2 separate regions of the Homo sapiens genome follow, and region 2 is linked to region 1. A link means that fine-mapping ties the variant in region 1 to the expression of a gene that starts in the linked region. Tissue or cell type: whole blood. Region 1 holds a variant in brackets; the other region holds the start of a gene. All regions are shown on one strand. Distances are from middle to middle.

Evidence for each region. PIP is the estimated chance that this variant, and not a neighbour inherited with it, causes the effect.
Region 2: FYB1 starts here. The variant in region 1 is fine-mapped to the expression of FYB1 in whole blood (TOPMed, PIP 0.92).

What each region holds. Positions count from the first base shown.
Region 1 is chr5:39,271,226-39,279,618 of GRCh38, reverse strand. It overlaps a transcript of FYB1 not described here. Among named protein-coding and RNA genes, the nearest start is that of FYB1, 56 kb to the right of the region's middle. The variant G/A (reference allele first, on the strand shown) is at 4,720.
Region 2 is chr5:39,216,498-39,224,890 of GRCh38, reverse strand. It overlaps FYB1 (FYN binding protein 1), which reads left to right and starts at 5,328. Exons shown (of 19, transcript NM_001465.6): 1 at 5,328-5,448. RefSeq lists an enhancer at 3,751-4,252.

The DNA.
Region 1 (8,393 bases):
CAAAGTAAAGGGATGGAGGAAGATCTACCAAGAAAATGGAAAACAAAAAAAGGCAGGGGTTGCAATCCTAGTCTCTGATAAAACAGACTTTAAACCAACAAAGATCAAAAGAGACAAAGAAGGTAATTACATAATGGTAAAGGGATCAATTCAACAAGAGGAGCTAACTATCCTAAATATATATGCACCCAATACAGGAGCACCCAGATTCATAAAGCAAGTCCTTAGAGACCTACAAGGAGACTTAGACTCCCACACAATAATAATGGGAGACTTTAATACCCCACTGTCAACATTAGAGAGATCAACAAGACAGAAAGTTAACAAGGATATCCAGGAATTGAACTCAGCTCTGCACCAAGCAGTCCTAATAGACATCTACAGACTCTCCACCCCAAATCAACAGAATATACATTCTTTTCAGCACCACACCACACCTATTCCAAAATTGACCACATAGTTGGAAGTAAAGCACTCCTCAGCAAATGTAAAAGAACGGAAATTATAACAAACTGTCTCTCAGACCATAGTGCAATCAATCTAGAACTCAGGATTAAGAAACTTACTCAAAACTGCTCAACTGCATAGAAACTGAACAACCTGCTCCTGAATGACTACTGGGTAAATAATGAAATGAAGGCAGAAATAAAGATGTTCTTTGAAACCAACGAGAACAAATACACAACACACAAGAAGCTCTGGGACACATTCAAAGCAGCGTGTAGAAGGAAATTTACAGCACTAAATGCCCACAAGAGAATGCAGGAAAGATCTAAAATTGACACCCTAACATCACAATTAAAAGAACTAGAGAAGCAAGAGCAAACACATTCAAAAGCTAGCAGAAGGCATGAAATAACTAAGATCAGAGCAGAACTGCAGGAAATAGCGACACAAAAAACCCTTCAAAAAATCAATGAATCCAGGAGCTGGTTTTTTGAAAAGATCAACAAAATTGATAGACCACTAGCAAGACTAATAAAGAAGAAAAGAGAGAAGAATCAAATAGACGCAATAAAAAATGACAAAGGGGATATCACCACCAATTCCACAGAAATACAAACTACCATCAGAGAATACTATAAACACCTCTATGCAAATAAACTAGAAAATCTAGAAGAAATGGGTAAATTCTTGGACACATACACTCTCCCAAGACTAAACCAGGAAGAAGTTGAATCCCTGAATAGACCAATAACAGGCTCCGAAATTGAGGCAGTAATTAATAGCCTACCAACCAAAAAAAGTCCAGGACCAGAAGGACTCACAGCCAAATTCTACCAGAGGTACAAGGAGGAACTGGTACCATTCCTTCTGAAACTATTCCAATCAATAGAAAGAGAGGGAATCCTCCCTAAATCATTTTATGAGACCAACATCATCCTGATACCAAAGCCTGGCAGAGACACAACAAAAAAAAGAGAATTTTAGACCAATATCCCTGATGAACATCGATGCAAAAATCCTCAATAAAATACTGGCAAACCGAATCCAGCAACATATCAAAAAGCTTATCCACCATGATCAAGTGGGCTTCATCCCTGGGATGCAAGGCTGGTTCAAGATATGCAAATCAATAAACGTAATCCAGCATATAAACAGAATCAATGGCAAAAACCACATGATTATCTCAGTAGATGCAGAGAAGGCCTTTGACAAAATTCAACAGCCCTTCATGCTAAAAAACTCTCAATAAATTAGGTATTGATGGGATGTATCTAAAAATAATAAGAGCTATCTATGACAAACCCACAGTCAATATCATACTGAATGGGCAAAAACTGGAAGCATTCCCTTTGAAAACTGGCACAAGACAGGGATGCCCTCTCTCACCATTCCTATTCAACATAGTGTTGGAAGTTCTGGCCAGAGCAATCAGGCAGGAGAAAGAAATAAAGGGTATTCAATTAGGAAAAGAGGAAGTCAAATTGTCCCTGTTTGCAGACGACATGATTGTATATCTAGAAAACCCCATCATCTTAACCCAAAATCTCCTTAAGCTGATAAGCAACTTCAGCAAAATCTCAGGATACAAAATCAACGTGCAAAAATCACAAGCATTCTTATACACCAATAACAGACAAACAGAGAGCCAAATCATGAGTGAACTCCCATTCACAATTGCTTCAAAGAGAATAAAATACCTAGGAATCCAACTTACAAGGATATGAAGGACCTCTTCAAGGAGAACTGCAAACCACTGCTCAATGAAATAAAAGAGGACACAAACAAATGGAAGAACATTCCATGCTCATGGGTAGGAAGCATCAGTATCGTGAAAATGGCCATACTGCCCAAGGTAATTTATATTCAATGCCATCCCCATCCAGCTACCAATGACTTTCTTCACAGAACTGGAAAAAACTACTTTAAAGTTCATATGGAACCAAAAAAGAGCCCGCATTGCCAAGTCAATCCTAAACCAAAAGAACAAAGCTGGAGGCATCACGCTACCTGACTTCAAACTATACTACAAGGCTACAGTCACCAAAACAGCATGGTACTGGTACCAAAACAGAGATATAGACCAATAGAACAGAACAAAGCCCTCAGAAATAATGCCACATATAAACAACTATCTGATCTTTGACAAACCTGACAAAAACAAGAAATGGTGAAAGGATTCCCTATTTAATAAATGGTGTTGGGAAAACTGGCTAGCCATATGTACAAAGCTAAATCTGGATCCCTTCCTTACACCTTATACAAAAATTAATTCAAGATGGATTAAAGACTTAAGTGTTAGACCTAAAACCATAAAAGCCCTAGAAGAAAACCTAGGCAATACCATTCAGGACATAGGCATGGGCAAGGACTTCATGTCTAAAACACCAAAAGCAATGGTAACAAAAGCCAGAATTGACAAATGGGATCTAATTAAACTAAAGAGCTTCTGCACAGCAAAAGAAACTGCCATCAGAGTGAACAGGCAACCTACAGAATGGGAGAACATTTTTGCAATCTACTCATCTGACAAAGGGCTAATATCCAGAATCTACAAAGAACTCAAACAAATTTACAAGAAAAAAACAACCCCATCAAAAAGTGGGCAAAGGATATGGACAGACACTTCTCAAAAGAAGACATTTATGCAGCCAACAGACACATGAAAAAATGCTCATCATCACTGGCCATCAGAGAAATGCAAATCAAAACCACAATGAGATACCATCTCACACCAGTTCAAATGGTGATCATTAAAAAGTCAGGAAACAACAGGTGCTGGAGAGGATGTGGAGAAATAGGAACACTTTTACACTGTTGGTGGGACTGTAAACTAGTTCAACCACTCTGGAAGACAGTGTGGCGATTCCTCAGGGATCTAGAACTAGAAATACCATTTGACCCAGCCATCCCATTACTGGGTATATACCCAAAGGATTATAAATCATGCTGCTATAAAGACACATGCACACATATGTTTATTGTGGCACTATTCACAATAGCAAAGACTTGGAACCAACCCAAATGTCCATCAATGATAGACTGGATTAAGAAAATGTGGCACATATATACCATGGAATACTATGCAGCCATAAAAAATGATGAGTTCATTTCATTTGTAGAGACACGAATGAAGCTGGAAACCATCATTCTCAGCAAGCTATCACAAGGACAAAAAAGCAAACACCGCATGTTCTCACTCATAGGTGGGAATTGAACAATGAGAACACATGGTCACAGGAAGGGTAACATCACACACCGGGGCATGTCGTGGGGTGGGGGTAGGGGGCAGGGATAGCATTAGGAGATATACCTAATGTAAATGACGAGTTACTGGGTGCAGCACACCAACATGGCACATGTATACATATGTAACAAACCTGCACATTGTGCACATATACCGTAAAATTTAAAGTATAATTAAAAAAAAGTAGGAAAGAAAAAAGGAAGGAAGGAAGGAAGGAGAAAAAATGAGAAATAGATCCCTTTTGATGTGGGACCTTTTCTTTATTTTATTCATTAAAGATCAAATTATCATTAAACAAATGGCAAAAGCAATAAGCAACCCCATGAGAGTGTGTGTCAGTTAAATCTTGTCTTGGAGACTCACTGAAGCAAAGGGATTATGACTTAGAATTCTGCTTCTGTGAAACAAATGCAAGGACAAATGATGTGAGAAATCACGAGAAGAAAACAGCAGGACCCAATAGACCCATGGAGTTCATGCATCCCCAAAGACCCAAAGAGAGGGTGTGATACAAATAATGGACAAAATTACAAAAAACAAAGCAAGGTAATATATAACCTAGAATTCTTCTATAAGCTTTGTTGTCTCTTTGCTCTCCAGGTTAACTGGTTTGATAAAAACTCCTTAAGTGAAGTCTAGATTAATTTTTTCATTGTCCTATTTTAGCAGATTGTTTTTACTGTAGTAAATATTCACCTGGGATTGGGTTTAAATTGTAAAGACAAATGCTCCCTTCTTTTCTTGAGTTTCAATACAATCTACTCGTTCCATTAAAATGTGGTGGAAACTCTCTTTTTAATCAAAAGTAAGTTGATTAATAAGCTATTTCTTCCAGAACACTGATGTTCTGAAGAGTTAAGGCCCTCTTTCATTAAAAGTAGAAAGTACAAGAGTGAAAAAGTTCACTGTGTTTTTAAAACAAAAAGTGAAAGAGAAATAACCCAAATCAAGGAAGTCCCCACTTCCTCCTGCACAGCCTTCTTAAGCATGCCTGTTCTTATTCTGCTTTTTCCTGCTACTTCCCATTT[G/A]CTATTTCATATCTAGCCAAACAGGGAGACTGAATTTCCTTGAATTTTTATGAATCTGCTTGTAAGTTTCCTTTAATTTCATGATCAAAGAGCAGCTCTGTAGTGACTATCTCTTAGTATTTGGCGATATTTTAGCCAAAGGTTCTCTTATAGCTTCCCATAAATGATGGGCTTCAAGGAAGGTTGTAGATGCAGAATCAGTGTACAAAACAAACATTGCTTTCATCTGAGGAACTCACGAGGCAAAAAAAAAAGAAAAAGTGTTTTAAAAAAAGCTGACCTAGGACCTTAGAGTGAGAAAAGGAAGTATGAAAATTAATTCTCATTGGAGCAGTTTCCAATCTAGTTGAGGAGCCAAACCTAATACACCCAATACAATTAGAGAACCATAAAGGGCAAACATATTAAAAGAGCTTAATTTTGTAGTGTGGCCTGCAGGCTTCCAGAAAAAAACAGGAGATCAGTGAGCTAGCAGCAGAGAAGCCTTCCTGGAAAAGGTGAGATTCGACATCCCTCTGTTCTATCTCAGGGGTCTTAGCCAGGCACATTAATGTTGGGCACGTAGAGTAGATGGCTACTTGTTTCTTGTATAAAATGTTAGACATTCGGGTTATAAAAAAGAAAATGTATCGGAGTTTATAACTATTTCTAACCTTCTATGCTAACAGTTTTAACCATGCTTCTTTTAAAACCTAATACCTGTAATCCCAGCACTTTGGGAGGCCAAGGTGGGTGGATCATAAGGTAAGGAGTTCAAGACCAGCCTGGGCAAGATGGTGAAACCCCATCTCTACTGAAAATACAAAAATTAGCCAGGTGTGGTGGCACATGCCTGTAATCTCAGTTACTTGGGAGGCTGAGGCAGGAGAATTGCTTGAACCTGGGAGGCGGAGGTTGCAGTGAGCTGAGATCGTGCCACTGTACTCTAGCCTGGGGGACAGAGCAAGACTCTGTCTCAAAAAGAAAAAAAAAAAGCATAATAGATAAAACACTGACGATGCTTCTCAGTAATGATCATTAATATTACTCAAATTTTATTAGTGTTCTTTCCTTTATCTACTTGCAAGATGAGTTTAAAAAATGAAGTTGGTTTTCCCTAGCCACCCCATTCTTCTAGACCTCACAGTCTCCACCTAGCCACCACCTTCAGTGAGTACTGAAGGGGCAGACTCATTCATTGCACCATTGACTGAACAAAAACTGTTTTCTAAAATAAAAATGTATGAAAAGAGAGTGCATGCCCCAGTATTTAAAGAATTATAACTTATTTTGCATTCTGTAAGCTACTTCTCCCTTCTATTAGCAGGACTAATTGCAGTGCCCATACTGCGAAAACATAGGTTTATCATTTTCAGATGGTATCACTATGCTCTCTGTCATCTTTGTTGCATTTCCTGTTTCATCTTCCTGCTCAGGAACTTATGTACTGAGCTCTGGCTTCACAGGAGATATACTCACATATGTGATGTTTGACATATATTTTTCAAATAACATGATTATGCCTTAAAAACTAAATATGAAAATATACTTGTGGACTACAAGTTATAGTTGGGAGTTTCAACTCAACTTTTCTTTTTTTTTCCAAGGCAGAAGAATTTTTCTTAGTACAGAACAAAATGAAAAGTCTCCCATGTCCACTTCTTTCTACACAGACACAGCAACCATCCGATTTCTCAATCTTTTCCCCACCTTTTCCCCTTTTCTATTCCACAAAACCGCCATTGTCATCATGGCCCGTTCTCAATGAGCTGTTGGGTACACCTCCCAGACGGGGTGGTGGCCGGGCAGAGGGGCTCCTCACTTCCCAGAAGGGGCGGCCGGGCAGAAGCGCCCCCCACCTCCCGGACGGGGTGGCTGGCCGGGCGGAGGCGCCCCCCACCTCCCTCCTGGACAGGGCAGCCGGCCGGGTGGGGAACTTCTTTTTTTTTCTTAGCCAAAAATACTTTTCTTAAATATATGTGTTTGAAAGACCACTAAATTTATTTCAATAACAACTAAAAATTACCTTAATCTGCATTTGGAAATAAGCACAACTTGAAATGGAATTTAGATGGATGAATTGAAATTCAAAGTTCTCTTAACCAGAGACTTACCCAATAAATTACACTGTTAACTGAATAATTGCTAGATTCCTGTTTATCATGTAATTTGTGTCCAACTTACTGGTATAGAGAGGAAATTGTAGCATGACTAAGATTAAGTAATTCTTTTTTTTTTTTTTTTTTTTTTGAGATGAGTCTGGTTCTGTCCCCCAAACTGGAGTGCAGTGGCGCAATCTCGGCTCACTGCAAGCTCCGCCTCCCGGGTTCATGCCATTCTCCTGCCTCAGCCTCCCGACTAGCTGGGACTACAGGCGCCCGCCACTAGGCCCAGCTAATTTTTTGTATTTTTTTTTTTTTAGTAGAGACGGGATTTCACCGTGTTAGCCAGGATGGTTTCGATCTCCTGACCCCATGATCCGCCTGCCTCGGCCTCCCAAAGTGCAGGGATTACAGGCATGAGCCACCGCGCCCGGGCTGATTAAGTAATTTTTATGTAGTACATGGGGTAAACATGTTGATTAACTTAGTAGAGAACAGTGTCAGAGTGTCACGATTATTTCTACCCACAAGGCTGGCCTGGTGATCTGTTCACTATCTTGCTAGTATGAGTCACCTGCTCCTTCTTTTAAGGCAAAGGCTCTCAAATATGCACATACCTTGGAATCACATGGTGAGCTTTGAAATACACTGATGCCTGAGTTTCAACCCCAGATTTTCATATAATAACCTGGGGTGAAGCCTGGGAGCTGAGACTTAAAACATCCCAGGTGATTTTAATGTGCAGCCAGGTTGAGAACCACTGCTTTAGAGTGATTCTCTTTACCCTAAGCTGTATCTGCACTTTGATGATCTCTATTCTAACAGACAGTAGATAAGAGGCTTTCTAGTGAAAGTAAAGAATGTCTCCATTTCAAAGCATTCTGGAAAATGTGTTATACTTAAAAGTATGCCTGGGTCCCATACCTCGCTCTTGCTTTGCTCTTCCTCCTCTATTCATTCATTAAGCATGTATTATGTGTAAGATAATGTGCAATTTCAGATTCCTGACCATCCACCAGATTCTGACCATGCCTCACATCCCTCTTTATAATATGTAAAGTTTTCAGGACAATCTCAGTTTCTACTTCTGGAACTCAACCCCTACCCTGGCTTTTTGCCTGTCCTATTAATTTCTAATTATGTCTTAATTTTGAAAACATTTTTATTTTAAGGAATAAATAACAGGTAACATCTTTTTTGAAAAAGGATTTTGTATGGATATAGGATTAATTAGTGTTTGGTCAGCATCATGTATAGAAATTTGGTGACCTTACACTAAATAAGCACTGTAATACTTACAACAAGATCTGGAAATTTGCAACCACCAAAAAAGGAATCATGCCTTTCCTCTGCCATGGAAAACAAAGATGACCTTCTACCCTTGAACTTACTTTAGTAGAAGGCTAAATATTCCAATTAAAGGGGCCAAATCTGTATATCAGAATGTGTTCAGAGAGGTACATGGATGATTGGAAAGTCTGACTACTTGGGATCAAATACTATGCCCTTAACATCTGATGCTAACAAATATTACCCCAAAATTAATACATGAACCTAGACTGAGCTGTACTTTTTTTTTAGGGAAATGAATGG
Region 2 (8,393 bases), 55 kb after region 1:
TTAACCAAGTAGTTTCCTACTTGGAAGAAAGCAGGAAGAATGAGCAGGTTAGAGGAAAGAGGTTGAAGTTAGAAGGATTTAGGGAGAGGAAAGTAGAGAAAAGCCACTTTTTACACATTAAATAGGAGCCAGTCCTGCAGCTTGCAGATCGTAATGCTTCTCTGATATGTGTACATGAGTGTTGAGTTGAGTAAGGGGAAGTAGCTGTTAAAGTCAAAGAAAATAAGCAGAACCCATTTCTTTTCTTCTCTCCTACACAGTCCATTCTCATCCTAATGTGTTTGGGCACTGAGTGATTTCTGACAACAGACAATGAGCTCTCTAGAGGAATACACACCTTTAATGAACTGTGATCAGGATGTGATTGGCTTAAAGACAGAGCTCTTGACAAGTCAATATATGTTGGCAGGGCAACAACAAGCTTCCAGAAAGGCGTGGACTCCTCAGAGCTTCATCTGCTGCTGTCTGGAGCAGTGGCGAAGCTTGGGAGGCCACTCCCTGGGTGAGCAAGCAGAAGGTGGCAGCCCTCCCCCATCTGTTTTCACAGGACGCTTAATCCCTGTAGTAAGGGAAACCGTCAGGACTGTGCTAAAGGCTGACTGGAGGCCAAATCATTTCACTTTCAAACACATTCATGATTTGTTTTCTGAGTAAGTCACTGGAGGCTTTTATCTGGCACAGCAGAGCTGGCTTGGCCACCAGAACCAGATCACCTTTCCTTGAAAGATGGCTGGAATGGCCATCGGTTTCGTGTTATTTACTCCTTTGAGAATATTAACTTCATCATTTTTTTAATTGTGGAAAAATATAATTGCTAGTAAGTACAACAATAAGTACAGTATTTAATTTAGAGGACAGAGAAGCAAGCACATTGACAAGTGATAGGCATGAACAGGCTGACACCTCAAAGTCATCATTATACTGAGCAGACAGCACAGGATAGGGTTTCTCCACCTGGAGAAGAGGGGAGTGTGGGATGAGATAGGGACAGTAGAAAATTTGGGCTGGGGTATAAAGACAGAAATTCTTATATCTGAAATGGATATTTGATACTGGGAGTAGTGAGTTGAGAATAAGCTGACCTTCTCCATCTCTACTACACCCACCCCCACTCTAATTCTCTTACCTAGGGTTTTATCTCCTTGTATTGCACAACAGAGCTGCACCAGATAGAGAAGTGGAAACCTAGTTTTTACGTCCACAAAGAATGAGCTACTCATTGAGACATTCATCATTTGCTTAGAATTACTCTTGCATGGGGGAATGGAAGCCCTAAACATTTAATAAATATCCAGAAGCACTGAGGTGTTAGCTTGATTCTGTAGCAGATGTTAAGACCAAAAACTTTATTTAAGAAGCATTTGAATGATTTTTTTAAATTTAATTGCTCAGGTTTCCCTGTAATTTATGAAGGCCTTTAGTGAATAGCCACAAAAATAATGAAAACTTCATATTCAAATAATAACTTAATATTACATTACTGGTTTCCTTTAGAAACATAATGCAAGTAATTCTTTTCAACTTCACCTTCTGTCAACACCATCTCAAGGAGGACTATACATAAAGGAAAATATGCTCCTCATATTTTTATATTTTCCTCTAAATGATAGGGGAAAATACTACTACTATACGGTGTCTTAAAAGTCTTACATTAATTCTCCAGTTCAGAAAATTGGTTGCCTGTAGCCAAAGCATGTAGTAAAATAGGTTTGCATGAAAAGCAATGCTTTTGCTTTTATTTTTTTATTTTTTATTTTTAAATTTTATTTTATTTTATTTTAAGTTCCAGGGTACATGTGCAGGATGTGCAGGTGTGTTACATAGGTTAACGTGTGCCATGGTGGTTTGCTGTACTTATCAACCCATCACCTGGGTATTAAGCCTGGCATGCATTAGCTATTTTTCCTGATGCTCTCCCCTCCATTGCCCTCCCCCAACAGGCCTCAGTGTTTGTTGTTCCTCTCCCTCTTTTATTGATTATAAGACACATAACACAGAGTGACAAGGGGAGAATCAAATGTAATTATCAGCATCATCATCTTGTTGTAATCAAATAATATTACTGCACAAATTTTCCTTTGTGAGCAAAGATTTTATAAAAATAGAAAAATGGGTGTTTATTATTATGTAATAATAAGAAAAGCTCAAAATAAGATAAATTTGAGCAAGTATCTATACTTCCGCTTATTTCGGAAACATACCATCATGTTACTAAACTCACCTCATAGCATTTTAGTTGTTTTTATTAAATCTTCAAACCTTTCAGACACTACTAAGCATAGAGACCATTCATAACAAATGAAACTTTCAGTTTTTTAAACTAAAACTTTCTAAATGTGTACATTTCTTTTCTGCCTTTTTGGAAAGCAAACTTTTAAAAATGTATATACTTTTAGGACACAGAGGCTGAGAGATATAAATTGCTGGGCTCACCTTCCCTTTAGTGGGACAAATGCATTAAAAAAGAGCAAGAGTCCCACAAACCAGGAAGCTGCCCTTGGCCTCTAATACATTAATTAATGTTTATAAAGTGCCTTCTGTATGCCTGGCAATGTACTACAAGCTGGAAATCCAGGACAAATAAGCCACAGTTACCGCCAACCCTTAAGGAACTCATGATCTAGTGAGAAACACAGACATATCTCCAACAACTAAGAGAGAGTACAAGACGCCAGAGCTCAGAAGGCCTTACCCAGTCTTGTGGGACAAAGTTCAAAAGGAGATCATATCTACACTGGGTTTTGGAGCATAAGCAGGAGTTAGCCAGGTGAAAAAGGAGAGGGGGCAGTACATTCCATGAAGACAGGGCGTGTTGCTTGCTTTTGGAGGATTATTTCATTTTATTTTATTTTATTTTATTTTACTTTATTTTATTTTATTTTATTTTTGAGACAGAGTCTTGCTCTTGTTGGCCCGGGCTGGAGTGCAATGGTGCAATCTCAGCTCACTGCAACCTCCGCCTCCTTTGTTCCAGCAATTCTCCTGCCTCAGCCTCCTGAGTAGCTGGAATTACAGGTATGCACCACCACCACGCCCAGCTAATTTTTGGATTTTTTAGTAGAAACAGGGTTTCACCATGCTGGCCAAGCTAGTCTCGAACTCCTGACCTCAGGTGACCTACCCTCCTAGGCCTCCCAAAGTGCTGGGATTATAGGCGTGAGCCACCTCACCCAGTGGATTATTTTATTTTGTTTTGGCCATCTGAGAGAGGTTGGCAGAGAGGAGAAGAAAAACAAGTAATCCCAAATTCCAGTTAGGCTTCCTTCATGGCCCAAGATCAACTGTCCCATGTTAGGTAAAGTCTTCCTCAACTCTTCTGCCCCCATGCAGAAGGAATTACATATTCCTGGGTATTTCCAGATGCCTTTATTCATACTTTGAGCTTAATACTCATCACAGTGTGTCATGGTTAGTTATACAGTGTCTATCTCTATAGTGGTTATAATACATGTTTGGTTGCAGCAAAAGAGACACAACATAACACTGATTTTTAAAAGTTAAATGTCTGTCCTCCTGTTCCCTTCTTTATAACCATCTAGCAAAATCCAGTGAAGATGGGGTTGTCTCCTGTGTTGGGGGCCAGGTCCTTCTATCTCCTGGCTCTGTCATGCCTAGAGTATTACCTTAGTCATCACTGGATCAGAAGAGCTCAGGCCCCCACAGCATCCCAGCCAGCTGGGAGGGGAAAGCATGATGGGGCCCTCTTTTAGGACACACCAAGAAGCTACATAGATCCCTTCTGCATAGATCCCATTGACTAAAACTTAACCACATGGCCAAATCTAATGTCAAGAGGGACTAGAAAATGCCTTATCCTGTGTAGCTGTGGGCCAGGTAAAAAGCCAGAGATCTCTTAGGATAGAATAAGCATCCTAAACTTTTGGCAAACTTTTTCTGCAGAGGACTAGATAGTAAATATTTCAGGCCATATACGGTCTCAGCCATGTCATCATCATTGTTGTCATCATCATTGTTACCATCATTGTCTTCTTTTGCTTCTTCTCCCTTTTCTTACAATTCTTAAAAAATGTAAATTCTTAGCCTGAGGTCTGTACAAAACATTCCACAGGCCAGATTTGGCATGCGGGCCATAGTTTGCTGACCCTACTACTCTATAAGAAGGGAAAATCATACGGGGAGGAAAGTGACCATCTCTGGCATAACGTCTGTAAGATTATAAGCCACTGAGTGGAAAATCCTTGTCTTCTCCATCTTTCTAGTCTTGGCCAGTGCTTGACCCACACAGTAAGTGTTTGATGTTTATGAATGAATGAGTAGAAGGAAGGTGGGGGAGGTTAATTTCACAATCACAATTTGTTAAAATCTCATTTAGTCCCAATGGTAGCCTCTGTTTTGGGGGGTTTCTTTTCTTTTCTTGTCTTTTCTTTTCTTTTTTTCTCTTTTCTTTTTTGAGTTTCTTTCTTTCTTTCCTTCTCTTTATTTTTCTTTCTTTCTTTCTTCTTTTTTTTTTTTCCTTCAGACAGGATCTTGCTCTGTTACCCAGGCTGGAGTGCAATGGTGGTGCAATCATAGCTCACTGAAGCCTTGAACTCCTGTGCTCAAGAAATCCTCCCACCTCAGCTTCCCAAATGTCTGGGGCTACAGGCATGCACCATCACACTTGGCTAATTTTTTTTTTATTTTTGTAGAGACAGGGTCTCACCATGTTGTCAAGACTGGTCTTGAACTCCTGGTCTCAAGCAATCCTCCTGCCTCAGCCTTCCAAAGTACCGGGATTACAGGCATGACCCACTACACTCAGCCCCACTGGTGGTCTTTTCACATGGATTATCATCTAAATACTCCATTTCTTCCAGCCTCAAGAATAGTCTAACAGAGAGCCGACAGAGTGAGTCTAGTGGGCTTTCCACACATGAGTGACCACTCTTCAGTTGATATGGTCAAGCACACCACTTTACCTCCTGACCTCAGGTGCAATTAGCTTCCAAATATTCCACATGCTCCAGTGGACCTTTCTAATTGTAAGCATCCCCCTTTGGCCCCCATTGCAGGTGACACTCCTGGGTGTGTGGAAAGATTATGGGTCCAAAGAACTTACAGCTTCTTCCTCTTGAATAAACATGGTGGCAGGCAGGAGAATCTTGTTTTGGTTTTACCCTTTTAAATATCACATGCTTGGTGGGAATGTTAGCAGAAGTATCCAGGCTGAACAGACACTTTTAAGTTCCCCTTTCTCCTCCTTATTACTCAATATCCTGAGGGCATAATAGAACTTTTCTTGTCTAAGTTTGCCTGGTCAGGGGAGGGAGGTGTGGCTCACTCAACCACTGACCGGGACAAAACCCTGCCAGGCATCAGAAAGCTCCGCAGTTCTTGAGTTCCACATGCAGAGCAGATGCGACAGCTAGAAGTGAGTAGGGCCCAGACCCTGGCCCAGGAAGATCCACTAAAGGAGGCCATCCTTCCGCCTTCTTCTGCAGGAGTCAGGTAACAGCTATGCCTAGGTTTCTTCTTTCAAATAAATGTGTAATTTTTTATAGCAGGAAAAAAGCACCACTTCCAAATTCTGGCAGCACAGACTGTGCTAGCTGAATAACTGAAGGAAACGCATGTTCTGTTGGAAAATAGCAAAAGAGATGAACAGGAGACACTAAAACTCAGCCTCATGGTAGCCAAAAGGATGATAAGCAGATAAAAATGTGGCCGGGAACGTGTCTGTCACTTGCTCTTTCGTAACTGGATAAGGCCTCTCATGTGTTCTTGTTGGAACCTCTGGTGCCACTAGCGTTAAATAACGTCTTGCAGTGAAACCAGAAACAAGGTTTTATTGCCAACAGAGCTGGGCACAGATGGTTTATTTCATCCTGGTTCCTAACAAATATGTGTCCATCCTTTTGATGAGAAAGAGTAACTTTCAATTTCCTCCAAACCTGGCAGGAGGTGAGGATTCACATGAGATTTCTACATAGACTAAAGAAAGGGACTATACTGCCATGAATTATGCCTTCTCAGAAGGAATCCTGGCAAACTGGATAAATGATGACAAACAGCTGCAGATCAGCCAAGGAGGCCTTTCAAAGCAACCAGCAACTCCAAATTTTCCTCGGAGCCTTTGGCTGTCTTGTATACATTGCTGATTCTTCTGAAAAATTCACAAGGTCTTTTCCCCCCATTTAACTTGATTTGCAGGGAAGTAATTAATAGAAATGGGCCTCTGACTCTGCCTTCTATTAGCTGTGTGACTTTGGGAGAGCCACTTAACCTCTCTGTGTCTCAGTTTTCTCATCTAAACATGGGGATAATAATAGAACTCATCTCATGGAGTTGTTGAGGGGATAAAACTATATACACTTTTTGAGTACTAATGTAAAATAATAATTAATATTCACCATTTTAAATATTTTTTCATTAAATACAAATAATTCTGCGTGGGAAACAGATGGGCTTATCACCGGAAGGGTGAAGTTGTGGCTGTGATTTTCTGCCCATGCTATGGGAATGCCACCGGAGGTTTTAGGTAGAGTAAAACGTCCCCATGCAATGTGAGATACACACACTTCAAATAGTCCGATACCTTAAGAAATTAATCATAAGTGATAGGTGAGGGGGAGGAGGATAAGGGTGCTCTTTCCAATAAAACCACATGTTTTATGATGTACCATTAAAGGCGATCCTGAATATCAAAGGCGTTATGGTGCACTTAAGGCACCCCGTGGAAAAGTTGACCATCCGTTTCAAAAAGGAAAGGCTAAAAAGGTTTCCATTTCCCTTGAGAAATTATTGTAAAGGTTGAAATCCACACTGCCTGACTGTCATGTCCATTATTTGTTTACTACCATTGGGCTTCAAATTCCCCCCAGCTTCTGCTGGAGTCCAGAGGCTTGGAAGCTCGCAGCAGCTGATTTCTGGTGCAATGCTGCACCTTGCCAAGTTACGGCTGCTTCATAGAGCAATCACACTGACATCTAGTGGTCTAAAGAGTAAGTGCAGGCGGTGGCTTTGAAGCTTTTACCAGCCTCAATGTGCTTTAAAAACCACATTTTCCACCATTTACACAATACGTTAACAAGAGAGAGAGATCAGGGATGTAGAAATGATATTTCATTTGTCTGAGGTGTTACTAGAGGCTGCTCTACAGGAACATTTCTAAAAACAAGAAAGTGAAGAGAGTGAACCGTGGCTCGCTGGCGGGTTTGGGCTGTGGTTCCAGGGGTTGCGGTTAAGACTGTGACTCCAGAATCAAGATCCTGAGCTTGAAGGTGGTCTCTGCCACGCACCAGCTGTGGGCCTTGGGTGAGTTCCTAAATGGTTCCATGACTCAGTTTCTTTATCTGTCAAATGGGGATAACAGTAACGTCTCCATTGACCTGTTTTGAGGTGATCCCTGAAAAGCTCCTAGCACAGCACCTGGCCCAGAAGGCAATCGGGGTTGCCCTCTGTTCTTGTTGTGACTGTTTTTTAAGAGCAAGCTGCTGCAGAAGCTGGCACCCCACAGGTCAGACAGCATAGCGCAGTGGAAAGCTCAGAGGATGAGCAAGGGAGAGACCCAGATTTTAGCCCAACTGTGTGAACCTGGACAGATCCCTTACGCAGTTTCTTTTTTGTAAAATGAAGGACCTTGGTTCGCTAATGTTTAAGGATTTTTTCCTTTCTCAAACGTTGTGTTCTAAACCTTGTACAGGCTTCTAATTGAAATTGTTCTACCTTTAAGGCCCATTTGTCTCCTTTCTTTTTACCAAAGCCCAGGGCCAAGCATGTCCCAGGTGTTTATTATATAGTTGCTGACTGATAAGAAGTGATTGTTGGAATGCTCTCTATTGGTCACTAGGAATAAACCAAGAATGTCTTTGGGCAGGAATGAAAATCCAGTGGGAAGCTCTGGAAGTCAAGGAATATTTCCCCATCAGAAGCTGGTCTGGGGTTTCTCTGATAAATTTGGAAAGCTCAGTGGTTGTCTTGTTTTTCTACCTCTGCTAATCAGCCTCTCTAAACAGATAAGAAACCAGGAAAATCATTTAGCTATATAAATTCAATACATAACCTTGTTAATCACGTTGCTGCAGCCTGCGCCTTGTGAGTTGGTCAGAGCAGTGGATGACTTTGCTTCTAAGTGCAGGTGAAATGCCACCAAATTCACATGCTGCCTGTGACCAATGCCTAACTCAGTCTTTCCAAGCCAGGGATAATCCCAGCTGGGATGTCACCTCTAATATGGCAACAAATGGTGGTGCAGCAAAAAATAATCATGAAACAGTCTTTCTTCCCTTCTTCCTAAACTTCATCCACATAGACTGTTGGATATTTATAGAAATCCAGCACAAACACAGGGAGGGGAACGACACACACTGGGGCCTGTTGCAGGGCAGGGGGAGAGAGAGCATCATGATAAATAGCTAATGCATGTGGGGCCTGATACCTAGGTGATGGGTTGA